Regions from separate parts of the Homo sapiens genome. Here region 1 is linked to region 2. Evidence: fine-mapped expression QTL. Tissue or cell type: whole blood. Region 2 holds a variant in brackets; the other region holds the start of a gene. All regions are shown on one strand. Distances are between the middles of the regions.

The links. PIP is the estimated chance that this variant, and not a neighbour inherited with it, causes the effect.
Region 1: LINC00534 starts here. The variant in region 2 is fine-mapped to the expression of LINC00534 in whole blood (TOPMed, PIP above 0.99). The same link has a PIP of 0.9 or more in blood mononuclear cells.

Annotation. Positions count from the first base shown.
Region 1 is chr8:90,216,772-90,224,863 of GRCh38, reverse strand. It overlaps LINC00534 (long intergenic non-protein coding RNA 534), which reads right to left and starts at 3,376. Exons shown (of 4, transcript NR_051989.1): 1 at 3,118-3,376.
Region 2 is chr8:90,163,089-90,171,201 of GRCh38, reverse strand. No RefSeq gene overlaps it. Among named protein-coding and RNA genes, the nearest start is that of LINC00534, 54 kb to the left of the region's middle. RefSeq lists cis regulatory regions at 3,023-3,040, 2,887-3,255 and an enhancer at 2,960-3,104. The variant T/C (reference allele first, on the strand shown) is at 3,054.

The sequences.
Region 1 (8,092 bases), 54 kb before region 2:
AGGTGCCTCCACTGTCATCAGTTCACCAACAAGAGCTGACCTATAGATGACCAGAAGGGCTCGCTTCAGCAAAAGCAAAAAAGAAACCCTTTTTTTTTTTTTTTTTGGCCAAATTTAAGGCTAGCCATCTATGTTACAAATCATGCTGCAAAAAGTAAAAAATTTAAAGCTCAGATTGGATCAACATTAAGGAGAGGTAAAGATGGGTGGGTTTCCTGGTCTTTTCAAAATAAATGTGACTTTTAAAAGGATGAAAAAAATGTTTTATGCTCCAGTATATTTGACTCACTGACCTTGACCTTAAGAAATCTGATAACAATCCTAATGCCCTAGAACAATGGAACTTTAAAATTAAATGGAAAAGCATGCACAGCAGCAATGGCAGCCCATAAAGCCCCCAGCATAAATGCTGCATAACTGGAGTAATGGGGAGTTTGAGTGAAAGGCAGTGGAAAGTTACAAGAAATTCAGAAATTATTAAAAGAGAGAGCCTTTATTCTAGGTCTTTTTATCAGTATCTGTTTACAAAAAGGCAAAACTATCCACAGTTATTTATCTATTTCCCCAATTTATGAAGCTTTGACACATGACAGTCACTTTACACCATGTAATCCTCATAAAGAGAGCATTGTTGTCCACTATCTAACATTTTTTTTCTTAATGGAGACTCTTGAGATGGTAAACAGCTTACTCAGATTATACAACAAATCCATTTTTACTTAACAGACAGAAACTCAGATCCAAAAGTATTCTCTTCCTCAGGTCTCTTAACTACCTCATTTGATGAGAATACACAAGTGATCACTCAGAAATTTAGTCAAGAATTTTAAGGTCACTTAATTATTTTAAGATTTGATTGAAAACTTGGCCTATTGCTTAAATCCTCTAGTGGACTTCCTCATTGCATCAGGTCAATTGAGTCAATCTTCAGATAGCTTCACACTTTTTTTTTTTTTTTTTGAGACGGAGTCTCGTTCTGTTGTCCAGGCTAGAGTGCCGTGGCATGATCTCGACTCACTGCAACCTTCGCCTCCTGGGTGCAAGCTATTCTCCTGCCTCAGCCTCCCAAGTAGCTGGGATTACAGGCACCCGCCACCACACCCAGCTAATTTTGTATTTTTAGTAGAGACAGGGTTTCACCATGTTGTCCAGGCTGGTCTCGAACTCCTGACCTCAGGTGATCCACCCGCCTCGGCCTCCCAAAGTGCTGGGATTACAGGCGTGAGCCACTGCAGCCAGCCACCTTCATTTTTCAAAATGATGAATGTGTTATAATAGAAACTTCTAGTCTTCTACGGTACCCACCATAGAGAAAGTTGCCTTATATAAATTTAAAACAAAAAAAGCATGTGTTACTGCAGCAAGATTTCCAATAGAGAGCGAAAACCTATTTGACATTAATCAATCACTTTTGAATCCTTGCCACAGCAAGTAAAATGTGAGGACAAAGGAACACAGACTGGGTCATGATTCATTAGTACTTAACTTAGATCAAGCTAAAGCAGACAAGAGGAGATAAATTTCTTATCAAACAGCTTTAGTGATGATGGAAGATTTAGACTCTATTTCAGCATTTTGCTTATTGAATTCCACATAGACAAATTTATCATTTTGAATCTCCCCAGTAAATTTTCTCTGCATTCAAATAAATGATAAGCTATGGGCGAAGAAATTCTCTCCTTTAATACTTTAATACCATATACAAATCTAGTCATCACATTAGTTGAATCCTAGAACCTCCTTCCTTTTGTGAATTAAAAACTTACAGCTCTTGGAAGACCAAGATATCAATACTGAGAATAATCAAAGGGTACATGTATAAGGATGGTGATGGGAGGTTAATCTCAACAGATACAGAAGTAAACAAAGCTTGGCTTAATAAAGCAAATGGTTATTTTAAGCAACATCAAATTTTTATAACGAGATCAGTAATGGAGAATATATAATGAAGCTTTTCAATAGAGTTCAAGGATTGAAACGAAGTGTGAAAAACACGACATTTTAGAAGCACACATCTATACAACACTGAAATTAAGATTAGGGATAGTAAGTGACATGGCAGGAATTTCTTTCCATTTTTTTTTAATTTCATAATTTTTTTTAATTTCACAGATTTTTTTGTTTAATTTCACAAGGATTAGTACATGAGCCATTATTTATCTGGCTTAGTAAAAAGTTTTCTGCCTATCTTAGCTAAGAGAAATGGAAGGCAACACTTTGATATGAGTGAATATAGCAATAATCAAGAAATTCCTATTCTATGAGATGTGGCAATGGTCGCAAATAAAATGTGACTAGTGTCCATGGGCAAGGTGAATAATTAATATATTCATTCACTGGGGACCTACATATAGTTCCCAATGAATGGGAACTTTTGGTATTAAAAAATTTGTATAAAGGTAATTTTTTGGTATAAAAGAAAATTATTAGCTTAAATTTCATCCTGTGCTCTCAGGAAAAAGAAAAATACTATTGGTCGTTTTTTAGAGAATGATACTAGGTATCAGCTAGCGTACTCAAGACCTGTGATATATACACATCATGTAAAATTTAAACACACCAACACTTACTAACATACAGCAATAGCACCAATATATTGAATAGACTTTAAACAGATTATTTTCATTAATTAAAGAAAATACCTGATATACCTCACACAGCTACCTGCAAAATGCTGCAAACACAGCAGAAGCTCAATAGAGATATTAATTAATCCAGTCAGCTAATGGTGATACCGTAACTACAAAAGCTGTATCCAAGATGATAGAGTTCTTAACTGGCCTCTCTGTCTTCAGTCTCACTGAAGTCCCACCCTCTAGACTGCAAAATAATCTTTCCAAAGATGAAATTTCTACTATGACACTCTATTTTTTAAATATTTAGTGGCCCGCAAAATAAGTTCCAACTTCCTTAGCATGTCTTCCTCACACGGCCCTTCATGATTTGGCTGTTATGTATCTAGACACCCTTAGATCCTGATACTTCCACACTTATTCCCTACACTCCCAGAATGCTAGACAACCAGCAATTCCTTGAGTATACCTTGTAGTCCCGTTTCATGCCTTGATCTCTATAGCAGCCATCATTGATACCCACCCATATCCGTTCAGCACTCACCATTTCTGTGAACCTCTAACTGCTGGCTTTCACCTGCGACTCTTTGCCTGAGGGCTTTCTCAGGTGGCCAGAGCTAATGGGGCCCACACCTGTGGAAAATCTAAAATAGAGAAGAATTAACATCCATAGGGAGCAGCTCTCAACCACAGAATGACTGGAACTGGTGAGCAGCTCCAAGTCATAGCCACACTGTTTCCCAGGGTGCTCCCAAAGAACTGAGAGACCCAGTTGCTCACAGAAGTAATCTGCCAGAAAAGACACTCTTTACAGTCATTCTTCCCTTCCTTATCTCACTTCCCACTCCCCTACTAGTGTTTCCTCCCAAATAAACTGCTGTACTCAACTCTTTGCCTCAGAGTGTGCTTCTGAGGAGAATCTTGTCCAAGATAGTCCCTTTACAAGTATCGTTCCCACTTCTGGAGAATATTTTTCCTTTCCTTCAAACCTACTTGGGAATTCTTCACCATCCTTTAAAGCAAACCTTCTTAAAATTTAATGTCATACAAATGACCAGAGATCTTATTAAAATAGAGATCCTGATTTGGTATGTCCTGAATGGGATCTGAGATTCTGAAGTTCTAACAGGCTTCTGGAAAAGGCGAATACCCCCAGTTTGAAAACCACACTTTGTGAGTAGCAAATATTTAAGACACAGTTCAAAAACCTATTTCTTTGGAAGTCTTCCCTAAAACTCCTTCATTCCTATCCTGATGATTAATTTTTCTTTTTCCCCTATGTTTATTACTGTGTGTGGTAATTCTTTGTTTACAGGTCTATCTCCAATGAGTTTGTTCCTTTAAGATGAGGATTGTCTTTTTCTTATCCATGTATCCACAATAACTAGCATATAGCCTGACATATTACCCATACCTAAGAAATGTTTGTGAACTGGTAAAATTAATGAACAAATTATAATTTTATGGCATACTTCACCAAAAATTTTATATGTACACATATTGTGTTCTGACACATTCAACTAAGTCAACTGTGTTATAAATATAAATTGTATAAATTCTTCAGATTTCTGGTCTATTTTTACATTAAATCATAGACTTCAGGACTTCTGAACAATGCAGATTATAGAATTTCTGCTGTAGAGATATTTAATAGGCTATGTCAACATCAGCTTAAAATGGTTTAGTTAACTGTTATCTAAAGGTCAGGAAAAGTATCAATCACTAGAATCCCTTCTTTGTATTCATATTTAAAATCTGTGGATGAATGTTGTGCAAGTTAGTCATTCATTGGGTTTAGGGAAGTGGAGAAGGTGGTGGCAGTGTGTGTGTGTGTGTGTGTGTGTGTAGGCACTTGCATGCATTTTGGGGGTGGGAGATATATTAGAGCAGAAATCACAAGAACATCCTAGGAGGAAGTACTTTATGGACTGCTCTCTTACCTGCCACAAATTGCTTGCAAATGCCATTGCCCTCAGAATCTCAGGATTGAACTTCTTGTTTATTTTAGTTGCTTCCTTCTTAAGAAAAATTCAATGTAAGGTGGTGAAACTAAATCTATCAAGGGAATAGCTATATGGTATCCTTAGATGGACAACTAATGGAAATAGCATCTGATCTTTCTACTTTAAGATGCAAGAACAGAAACTAGGGTGTTTTGAGCATATCAAGTTCTGAACTAGATAATAGCACTGATAATGGACTAAAGAAAAGTGATATGTGGAGCCCACAGTGTTGACTGGAAGTCAGCTCCTATCTCATTCCAACCTCATTCTCTTACCATTAGAAATCAACCCTGAGCATGTTAGAAAGATGTTCTCATGACAAGGAAAATGGCAACTGAAAGCCCTTGACATATTAAGATTTGACTAGATCAGAACTTGAATAACATTTTGTACTTTATTTGCATCTACCACATTGTATTTTAATTCTTACTGTCTAGGTCCATGTTTCCAATTAGGTTAGTCAAGTCCTTGAGAGCAGGAATCAATTTAATTCAGTTTTTTATTCCTGGAATATCGCTTGACCTATTGCAGATGTTCAGTTATCACTGTTGAGTTAATGAATCAATGAATGAATTGATCAATGAATAAATTATAGCCACATCATAATTGTTAAAAGAACACTAAACAGTGGATTAAAGCTTTGGGAGTCCAGAGAGCTAGGGAGGAGTCACAGTTTCTCAAAGATTTTACTAGTTCGAAAGGGTGTATTTAACATTAAAACAACAAAGAGATATACTTAGAACCCACTCTAAACAAAGACTAATAATAACAAGGACTGACGAGAATGTAAGAACTGGAACTCTCATGCATTGCTGGTGGGAATGTGAAATGCTACGTTTACTCAAAAATTATTATTTACTATATAACCCAGTAATTTCACTCTTAGATCTATACTCAAGAAAAATGAGAATCTGTGTCCAGACAAAGACTTGTGCATGAATGTTCGTAACAGCATCATTCATAATAGCCAAAATTTGGAGACTACTGAAATGTCTATCAACTTGTTAATGGAGAAGCAAAATATGGTATGTCCATATGAACGGATATATTCAACTATAAAAAGAACAGACTTACAGATAGATGCTACATTTATAAATTTTACCAAATGTAAATTTTTCCAACAGGACTGTTGCTACTCATTATCTCTTTTGTTATCCTGAGAATTTCCATAGAATGCTTTAACTATCCATTGAACACTTCCCACAAAATCTTGTTATTGCTCATAGTTCTAGTTTTTCCCTTTTAAAAAGGGGTATTTATATTTTTATGATTAATGTTAAAGTAAATTTACCAATACATGTTCTAAAACTGTAGTTCAACTCAGAAATTCTTAGACCCTCACCTTCATCCTGAGTTCACTGTCTTATTGCTAAAGCACAAACTTTAATAGTTCTTTTACTTCAGTTATGTGGACAATAAATTGTATTATTCTTTTTGTGTGCGAAAAATGCTTCTATTTTGCCATTACATTTGAATAACAGTGTTGGTGAGGATGTGGAGAAATTGGAACTTTTGTGCACTGTTGATGGGAAAGTAAAATGATATAGCCACTATGGAAAACAGTATGGCAGTTTCTCAGAAAATTAAAAATAAAATTACCATATGATCCAGCAATTCTGTTTCTGGGTGTATAACTAAAATAATTTAAAGTAGTGTCTAATAGAGATGTTTGTACAAATATGCTCATAGAAGCATTAATCACATTAGTCAAAAGGTAAAAATAACCCAAGTGCCCAATTGATGAGAAAATGGATAAACAAAAGGTAGTCTATACATCTACATATACAATGAAATATTATTCAGCCTTAAAAAAATGAAATTATAATGCATGCTACATACGTATAAACCTTGAGGAGACTGTGCTAAGTGAAATAAGCCAGTCATGAAAACACAAATATTGTATGATTCGCTTTATAAGAGGTATTTAGAGTAGTTAAATTTGTAGAGACAGAAAGTAGAAAGGCACTTGCCAGTGGGGCTGAGAGGAGGTTGGAATGAGGGGTTGTTGTTTAAGAGGGGTAGAGTTTCAGCTTTGCAGGATGAAATGAGTTCTGGATTTTGATTGCACACCAGTGTGAATGTACTTTACACTCCTGACTTAAAATGATTAAGCTGGTAAATTATATGTTACATATATTCTGTCACAATCAAAAATAAAAATAAAGGAAATGAGGGAAAAAAGAATGAAGAGGACTGAAACACATGGCAGGAAATTGACAAATCATAAATAGGAAAAGAAAAATAGAAATAGCGTCTGAAAATCTATTCTTTCACAAATTGCCATTGAGGGAGACTCTCTGCTCACAAAAGCATTGAAGGAAAATGCAAAGTTAAAGATCAACAAATCCAGCCACCTAAAGTTTAACACATTTGAAGATTAAAACCTTGGATAAAAGGAAGAGGCAAGTATTAAATGAAGAAGGATATTTTTTAAAAAGTGATCCACAAGGAAATAATATCCTTAATATTTAAATAGCTAATAATAATAGATAACATTTATGGAGCATATACTATGTGCCAGGTAGTGTTGTGAGCACTTAATATATTTTATCTCATTACTCCTCACAACTACTCTGAGACATAGTCATATCTACTATTACCCATTTTAAAGATGAGAACTGAGGCACAGTCATTCTGCAACTTGCCCATTGGTGTCCCATAGAAGTGACAGAGTCAGCATGATGCTCGGAAAATCGGTGCTAGAGAGCCTATGATTCTAAGCACTAAACTCTGTTAAGAAAAAATAGAAATACTCCAAAAAAAGACAATTATAGGAATAGGTAATACTCTAGGAAAGAAAGAAGTGATCAAAACTATAACCATGTTCAACTCATGAGTCATCAGAAAAACACAAATTAAAATAATGTTACCATTATTTACCTTTCAAGTTAACAGAGTTCTTCCAATTATAGCACTCATTGAGTGCAAGGCTACAAAGAGACAGATTGCTGAAGAAAGTGAGAATGGTTGGAAATTGGTAAGACAAGGCTTCCAAACAAAACAGACCAAAAAAAAAAAAAAATGATGTGGAGGTAGGGGAGGAGAAAAGTAACCAAGTAAGAGTTCAAGCAAGGGAGAAAGACCCTGCATTTGTCCTTTTGTTTCCATTTCCATAAGAGTACATAAACCCTTAAAATAATCCATCTAGCCTGTCATTACAGGGAGAACACAGTTTATTGTGGAGCTGACAAAAAGTAAGAGTCAACTCTAGGATATTTGATTGGGGTCCATCCAGGTGGGGCACTGGTCATCCTCATAGCAAATAAAAGCAATTTTTCTCCCTTGTGACTCTGTCTTAATCAACTGTCAGCCAACCCAGAGTTAGTGTTTGCCACCTCTGCCCTTTCTGCCTTCTCTGCCCGCAGTCTTTGTTTCTGCTCACACTTGAGTTTGGTGTAATCAAGCCTCAACTCTAAACTTCACACTCTGCTGGTTTCAGGGGACTTGGAGGACAAAGAAGGGAACGCTGTGTGCATTAACTACAACAGGCTTCCGGGCAGTGACTCTTCTCTTTGG
Region 2 (8,113 bases):
TGTGCCTAAAGAATTCCAGGGTAGAAATGCCTTATAAAAAAGAATGGGGACAGCATGTTCAAACTTCTTTTTATTAGAAATAAAATAAACCTTTTTGGAAATAGGCAGTGACATTTTTCAGAAAGCTTAATTTTGGTTCTAGTAATATCTTCTTTTAATAATCACTAACAGCAGAATTTTAATCAAAGTGTGCTTATATTTTACTTCTGTAAAAAGAAAATTAGTTTGTCTTTAGTTTTTTAAAAAAAGGATTCAATGAGATATCCGTGTAATTAATTTTGAAATTATCTTATTTCCAGACTTATCTTTAAATAGATATTGGTGAAATAGATATTTTCAAAACCTCTTGACAGGATATTTTTGAAAAGTAAAGTGTTTTGTAAATAGATAGAATTGTATAATATCTCTAATGCAAAAAAATGTATAAAGGACTTTAAAACTTATGATATAAACTGTTTTTGCTGTTCTAATAATTTGCTTAGAAATGACATCCACCAAAACCCCCCAAAATATTTAACATTAATTTTGATGAAAGATGTCATTGAAAAGTTTTCCCTCTTGGAAGTAAAACATTAAAAATTGTATGTGTGTGACGGTTGAGGGAGAGGAGTTGCAGGACTTCATGATGCCCTCATCAGCTGAAGACCAGGAGAGAAACTTATGTCTGGATGTAATAGAGGCTCCATTTTGAAAACTTCAAAAGGCCAAGAAAATTAAAATGTAGCTCTGGCCTAATCAAAATTGGGTTTTTAATCAGTTTCTAGCACTTCGTTAGCTCTTTTGCCATAATAATTTCATTTTCCAATTTTATGATAACTTGTGGACATCTCATCATGCCACTATCAAAATGCATGCTCTTTGGGGACTAGATCTGTTTTTTTTTTTCTATCACCCACAGAAATGCACAGTTCCTACAGAAATCTAAATATTCAATAAATATCGATTGTTTTAATAAATGTCTGAATAAATTGTTAAAGTTGTAGCATATAATTTGCATGCCTTCTGTGGCTGATTCCTGTTAGGAGTTCTGCTATGCATAAAATAAAATGTTAGACTAAAAACACTACATGACCAGTATACTCTTACCTATAGATTTACGGGAACATTTGGACTCTAACTTGCTAGGTTTTTAAGGTTTTTAAATTAAAGAAAAGTTGTATCTAATATTATAAATGAATCAATGTTGAGCTTATTGTTCCAGAAAAGATAGCAGTAGTAGAAACTGTTGGTTGTTAACTGCCTACCAAAATTCATCCTCCCCAACCTAATTATATTTCCCTATCTCCATTGCAATTGAGTATGGCCATGAAACTAAGTTCTCTCTGATGGAATGTGAGGGGAAGTGGTGTATCTCTTTCAGATATGGCCCACAAAAACCGTCTCAGGAAGTTGCCTTCATCACTCCAGCTTACAGGGATGATGACATCCAGAACATTACAAGTTAAAGATGGCACTACCACTTTTACTTTGGTTCCCTGAATGGTTGTGTGGAGCAGAGTCCCCTTTAGTGATGTGTGACATCCATTTTGGGCTGTTTTGTAAAGAAAAAATAAACTTCTACTGAGTTTGAGTCAATTATATCTTGAGTCAATCTGTCATAACACTTTAGCCTATCCTAATTAAAATACATAGGACTTATTGAGTGCCTCCTCTCTGCTAGGCAAGAGGCTAGAGAGACATTTCCATTCCATTTCCATTTCTAAGACATTATTAAATACTATATTTTTCAATCTGGTTTTGAACTCTGATGTGTCAGGCATCACTGAGTATTTTATATTTACTGTCTTATCCTCCCAATAGCCCTATGAGGTAAGTACTGCTATTTCCCCACTTCACTAATAAGAAAATAGAGGCTTTGGAAAATTTAGAAATTGGTCCAGAGTCACACAGCTAAGAAGTATTGTAGCAATAACCAAACATAAACAAAATCCATGGGGCCATCCACTGAGCTATGCTGTCTTGGCCAGACACTGTATCCTTAAGGGATACCTCCAAATGCAATTGCTACATCAGAACTGATGTTGAAGGATGTAGGTCCCTTTGTGCTAAAAACTCTGATTTGTGCCCTAGTGTGAATTCTAAGAGGTATGTTGCAACATGACTGAAAATGGTCAAGTGTTCTGTCTAGGACAAGTGATTGATTCCCATCAGAACACTTTTATACTCACTTCTATGCTATGAAGCCCCATACATCAATAGACCCTGTGTCTTATTCTATGCACATCAATAAACTGGATTAGGAGTTGGGGGTTACAAAAAAAGGTCAACAGTACAAATTTTGACTTTGTGGGGAGATCACAGAGACTAAGTACACATCTACATGAAGCAAGTAATCAATGATAAGTGATCCTAAAGGTTAAATAACCATGGAACATAACTCAGGGTTTGACATCTCCAAGCCCGACCTCTGCTGTGCAAGAGATTTTCATAAGCAGTAATGCCCTCAGCAGCTATTGCAGTTTTTACACTCTTTAGAGAAAGATTTGAGTATAAACACACTGGACACAAGAACCTTGAATGTGATACTAACAGTGGTCTGTATTTGAGTTTCCTTATATAAAAGGAAACTCTTGGGATGAAAGCTATCAAGAACATTTTAATTTGCTTGGTTTAGTAAAATAAATGCCCCCATCGGTGGATACAACAACACATAGATACATCTATAAGTAATTTCTTTAAATCACTCTTCAGATACAACTTACATTGAAGTTTCTCTATTTTTAATTAAGGCAGCTGCTTGTTTTGCTATGATATAAATTTTATTACCAGCATTAAAGCCAATAATGTAACTAGCTTTCAAATAGTGGAGTGCCTTTGAAACTCAAATTCTCATATCTGGAGTTATGTTTGCTAGGTTTGAGATTTTGCCTTTTGCAGCATCAGCTTTTGGTTCAGACTTGCCCTTTGAATATGGTCTTCTGATGAGTCTTCTGCCTAAAGAAGTAGGACTACACAGCTAATTTTTCTAGGAAGAATTTCTTGGCCAGCCATGCATCATCTCTGTGTTGACACTGTAGTATATCTTATCATCCTGCCACAGCCTTCTTCACTTT[T/C]TCCTGAACTTTTGTGACTTTGGCAGCCTCACAGGCTCCCACTGCTAAACTATGTAGGAACTCATGCCCCTGAAGAAACAGACAAGTAAGGCAGAGGATTTTAGTATTGTTTCTCCATCTCCAGCTGGGTACCCTCAACCACAAGCTTATCTCTTCTTGCTTTCCTGTAGAATTATTCATCAGAACCGTTAGATTCCAGATCCTTAATGTAAGTTTCTGCTGACTTCATCTTACTAAACATGAGATGCTTGAGAAGATAAAATGAGATAATGCATACAAATTGCCATAATCTCTGATGTCATTAGAATTTAATTATTATCACCTTTTTTTCAGATCATTTATTGAACCACAGTTCTTTTTTTCAGACAGGGTCTTGCTCTGTAGGCTGGGCTGGAGTCCAATGATGCAATCTTGGCTCATTGCAGCCTTGAACTCCTCAGCTCAAGAGATCCTCCCACCGTAGCCTCCTGACTAGCTGGGCCTACAGGCATGTGCCACCACGCCTGGATTTTTTTTTTTTGTTTGTTTTTATAGAGATGTGTTTCACCATATTGCCCAGGCTGGTCTTGCAATCCTGGCTAATTTTTTTTTTAATTGTAGAGACAGGGTTTCGCCATGTTGCCCAGGCTGGCCTCAAACTCCTGGGCTCAAGCTATCCACCTGCCTTGGCTTCCCAAATTGCCAGGATTACAAGCATGAGCCACCATGCCCAGCCTGGACCATAGTTTTTAATGGGTGATATTACTATACTTTCACAGGCATGTGGCCACTCTCCACTCCCTCTTATATATCTGATTGATTTCACTGTGATGAGGTTGGTCCACCTTCTTGGACAAGGCTTAGCATGTGTTATTTGGTGGGTTTGTCAGTTTGGTCCTTAGGGAAGCAGATGTCATGATGGAATTAGAAGCACAGGAGATTTACAGGGGGTAACATCTATGAAAGATAAAGGGGATCAGGAGTAGACAAAGCCTTCAGATAGCAATATGGGCCTCATGTTCTAAAGGAGAGAAGGGAAAAGGTGAGTAGTAGGAAACTGCGGTGCAGCTCTCAACAGCCTGGGACAGCACAATGGAACATCAGCACAAAGTTACCTGTAGAGGAGTCCTGAGCTGGGCAGAATGGTCAGACTGTGTGCTCCACTGAGCTTGGTCATTGGTCGTGAGCTCCCAAAAGAAGCATGTCCTCAGCTCTAACGCTGTGGCAGATACCAAAGGCCTACAGCTAGAGAACTGAGTGGTGCACATTCTTGATGGCCTTGATGCAGTTCCATCTGGGATGTGAGCGCAAGTGGTTTTTGTGGGGAGGGGAGCCCAGAAAACACCAGTAGGGGGATGGGAAGGGAGCAGACCAAGAGTGTATGCCTTATGGTATTCATGTTCTGTTGAAGTCATAGCAAGTTACCACAAACTTAGGGGCTTTAAACAACACACATCTTTTTATCCCATAGTTTTTGTAGATCAGAGGTCTGGGCACAGCATGGCTGAGCTGGCTCTCTGCCAAGCATTCCACAACACCAAAACCAAGGGGTTTTCAGGTCTGGACTCCTGTCTAGAGGTCCTGGGAGAGAATCTCCTCCCTGGAGCAGAAGCTCATTCAGATGGTTGGCAGAATCCAGTTTCTTGTGGCTATAAAACTGAGGTCCCATTTCCTTTCTGGCTATCAGCTGCAGATCACTTGTAGCTCCTAAAACCTTTCTCTGATCCTCGAACACCGGTCCTTATATCTCAGCTCTAGCAAAGTTGCATCAACTCCTTCTCCTGCTTCAAACATCTCTGGACTTCTCCTGCTGCTGCATCTCATCTGCTGCATTTCTCCAAATAGAGAAAGTTCTGTTTTTAGGGCCCATATAATTAGACTGGGCCCACCTGGATAATCTAGGCTACTCTCCCTATCTTAAAATATATAACTTTAATTACATCTGCAAAGCCTCTTTTCCCACATGTGCTCCCACAACTTCACAGGTGCCAAGAATTAGGATGTGACCCTCTTGGGGAATATCATTCTCCCTGTTACAATTATCAAGCAGGTCAGCCACTCTAGGCAACTGAGTTTCACCTCTGATGGAACTCTAGGAGAAAGTGCAGAATATGCTCCAGACTCATTCCACCTGGGCAATGAAGGAGCTGGGGTATTTATCCTTCAACTCCCAACAGCTAGGGCTGTTTCAGGGGTGTTAACTACCCAACATTTGCAGCAGGCCCCGCTGAGCATAAACCCTCACGCAGAGAATCCTGGGTGTGTGCCATAGGATCCTTTGGTATACACCAAGAGGGTTAAGTGCTGAGAGGGTATGGGTGGGGTATTGCTAGTTTCCATGATCCTGTGCATGTGTAGGTATGCTCAAAGTGAAGCCCGGTCATCCCTGGGGGACCAACAGGCCAGGCAAGTTTACCAGGGCCTATTGGTCCCAAACTTTCCATTTTGAGAGGCAGGACATGAGGAATAGATGATAAGGCCTTGCTTAAGCCTCAGTGATAAGCCTCAGGCTTCAAGTCAGTCTTTTACCAGAGCTCCAGTATAGGTTATAAGATTTATGCCCAACTATGACTAAGGTGAACTTTGCCTCATATGTTGCTAGATTCCTTATTTGTGGTATTTCCTTTGAGGCCCCACACAAAGGAGGTGTGATTAACAAGTCAGGATCCAGTTATCATAATGTCAGGAAAACTCCTCTATTCCTTATAATCTTCTGACAACTGAGAAGAGAAAGACATCGATATGACAGAACTTATCTATATGATGAATCCAAAGGGCTGCCTCTGGAAGGCAGAAATACCAAGCAATGGCAGTGAGGCACAGGGTAAGTGGTGCCCATTTAACACACACTAAGTCAATAAATAGTCCTGGCCGTTCAGATGTAGACTTCAACAATACTCAGTATGTTTCAGAATCATTTGGTGGGTGAATTTCCCCACTTGTGACAAGTTCATCACTGCTTTTGTCTGGCTGAACTTTCAGCCCAGACAGTATCACAACACCATCCTCAACAGATAGTCTGAGGCTGTCTTGGGTGCTAAGATTATCCCTGCCATTGAGTACATTCCTCAAACGCAGAACAAATAACAAGACTGGAGAACAGGGGCTTGGAGTCAGACAAAACTGAGTTTAAGCCCCAGATTCTATACCTCCATAATGAAGGATCTCACTCACCTCATCTTACTAAACATGAGATGGTTGAGAAGATGAAATGAGATAATGCATACAAAGCAAATTGCCACAATACCTATGTAATCAGAATTCAATTAATGAGTTGCATTTTTGTCAAGTTAGTGCAGTCACCTCCTAAGAGCTGAAAAGTTTGTTTTGTCTGTAATGTTCTTTGGAATTGGAACTAATTCAAACAAGAGACTTAACTGGCTGGGTGCTGGCCTCATCTCTCATCACCCTCACTCTGCACTCTGCACCCTGCACCCGCTTGAGAGCTGGAAGCTGCTCTGGGTCTGCACTGCCTGGTTCCACGCTGAGTCAAAGCTGCTGCTTTCTACCTCATGAGAAAAGAAATATGCTCTGTACTCTATTGACAGAAGATTCTTTGTGTACACAGAAGAGGTTCTTATTTATCCAACAGAAATGTTATCCTCTCGAGTGTTAAAAGGAGCCACAATTCTCATCATCAGGTTTAGGAAATCAAAGTACATTTTAATACTACTTTACAACCTACTGGGGAAAGAACTGCTCTTAGAGTAGCATTATTATTCATCAGGAAGTAGGTTTGGGATCACATTTTGAATTTTCTGTGCCCCTACTCAGCTGTTAGGATGGTTAACTGAGAACTGTGTACATGCCACCTCCTGGATTTTTGGGATGCCTTGTTTTAAGGGCCTCATGTTTATAGGCCTTTCTAGTTTCCCACATCCAGCTATTATCACAAATTCCCAGAAATTTAGTTTCTCAAGAAGCAAATTAAAATGCTCTTTCCTGTGTAGCAAGATGCCTTAGTTAAGTTTTGTGTCAGCTACCTTTCAGGGGTGAGTACTAGAGATGGCCCCCTGCTGTATGATTTTGGGGAATTGAGAACACAGGTATTTAATTATACTACAAGGAATGCTCTGGTTTTGTTAAAAACAAAGTGATTTCCAATTTTAATCACATACAGAAATCTATAGCTCCAAAAGAGCTAACAGAATAGGGAAATACAATGCTGTTTTGATAAGATCTTAGGGTATTTCCAAGGTCCAGGTTAATATAACATTTTAGATAAACAGTTACTATATTTACTGAATATTCACTTAGAGATCATTGTGCAAGATGCTATGGGTGATTTTTATAATACATGACAAAATCACTGCCTTAAGGGAGTTTATAACCTAACGGAAAAAATAAGATTATATTAAACATACTAAACATTGAAGTATAGTATATGATTAAGTGCCAGTTGGAACACCTGCAAACATTTGTGATAAAATTAACAGTGGGAACCACAAGATTGCCAAGGAAGGGAAGGTTGTGGGAACCTTGTGTCCCCAACTTTACCTTCCCTTTGGAAGTTATTGCTAATGGCCCTTGTCCTAGCTTCACTGACCCCACTGGGAGGGAGAAGAGTGTCTGAGTAGGGGGTTTAGGTGGGCTAGAACCCAATAAACATCAAGCTCAAATAGGGAAAATCACAGTTTCTTTCATGGCCCATGGCAAATCTGAAATGAGATGAAAATCAAACTAGACTGAAAAGACTGGAGGAACAAAAGCGAAATGATCTGTAATTTGATCATCTGACCTACCAGCCATACTTCATATATCTTCAGATAGTCGCCACAGAGTTACCTCCTTGTCCGTATCCCTGTATGGCTCCTGAACTAGCTTTTCCTCACCCAAAAAATCATCTGGACACTTCTAAGTCCAGATCTTCGAGAGAGGCAGAAGTTACTTTTCCAGCCTAAGACCCAGGTCTCCTGAGTTCTGGTTTCCTTTCTGAGGGTCTGGCCTCCTCCCCAAGTGATTGACATAATGCCTGCCCCATTGAGGATGGCTCCTACTGTTCCTATGTGGCTACCATTACTATTATTTATAGTGTTACTGCTGCTACTACTGATGAAATAATAGCTACCATTTATTGAGTG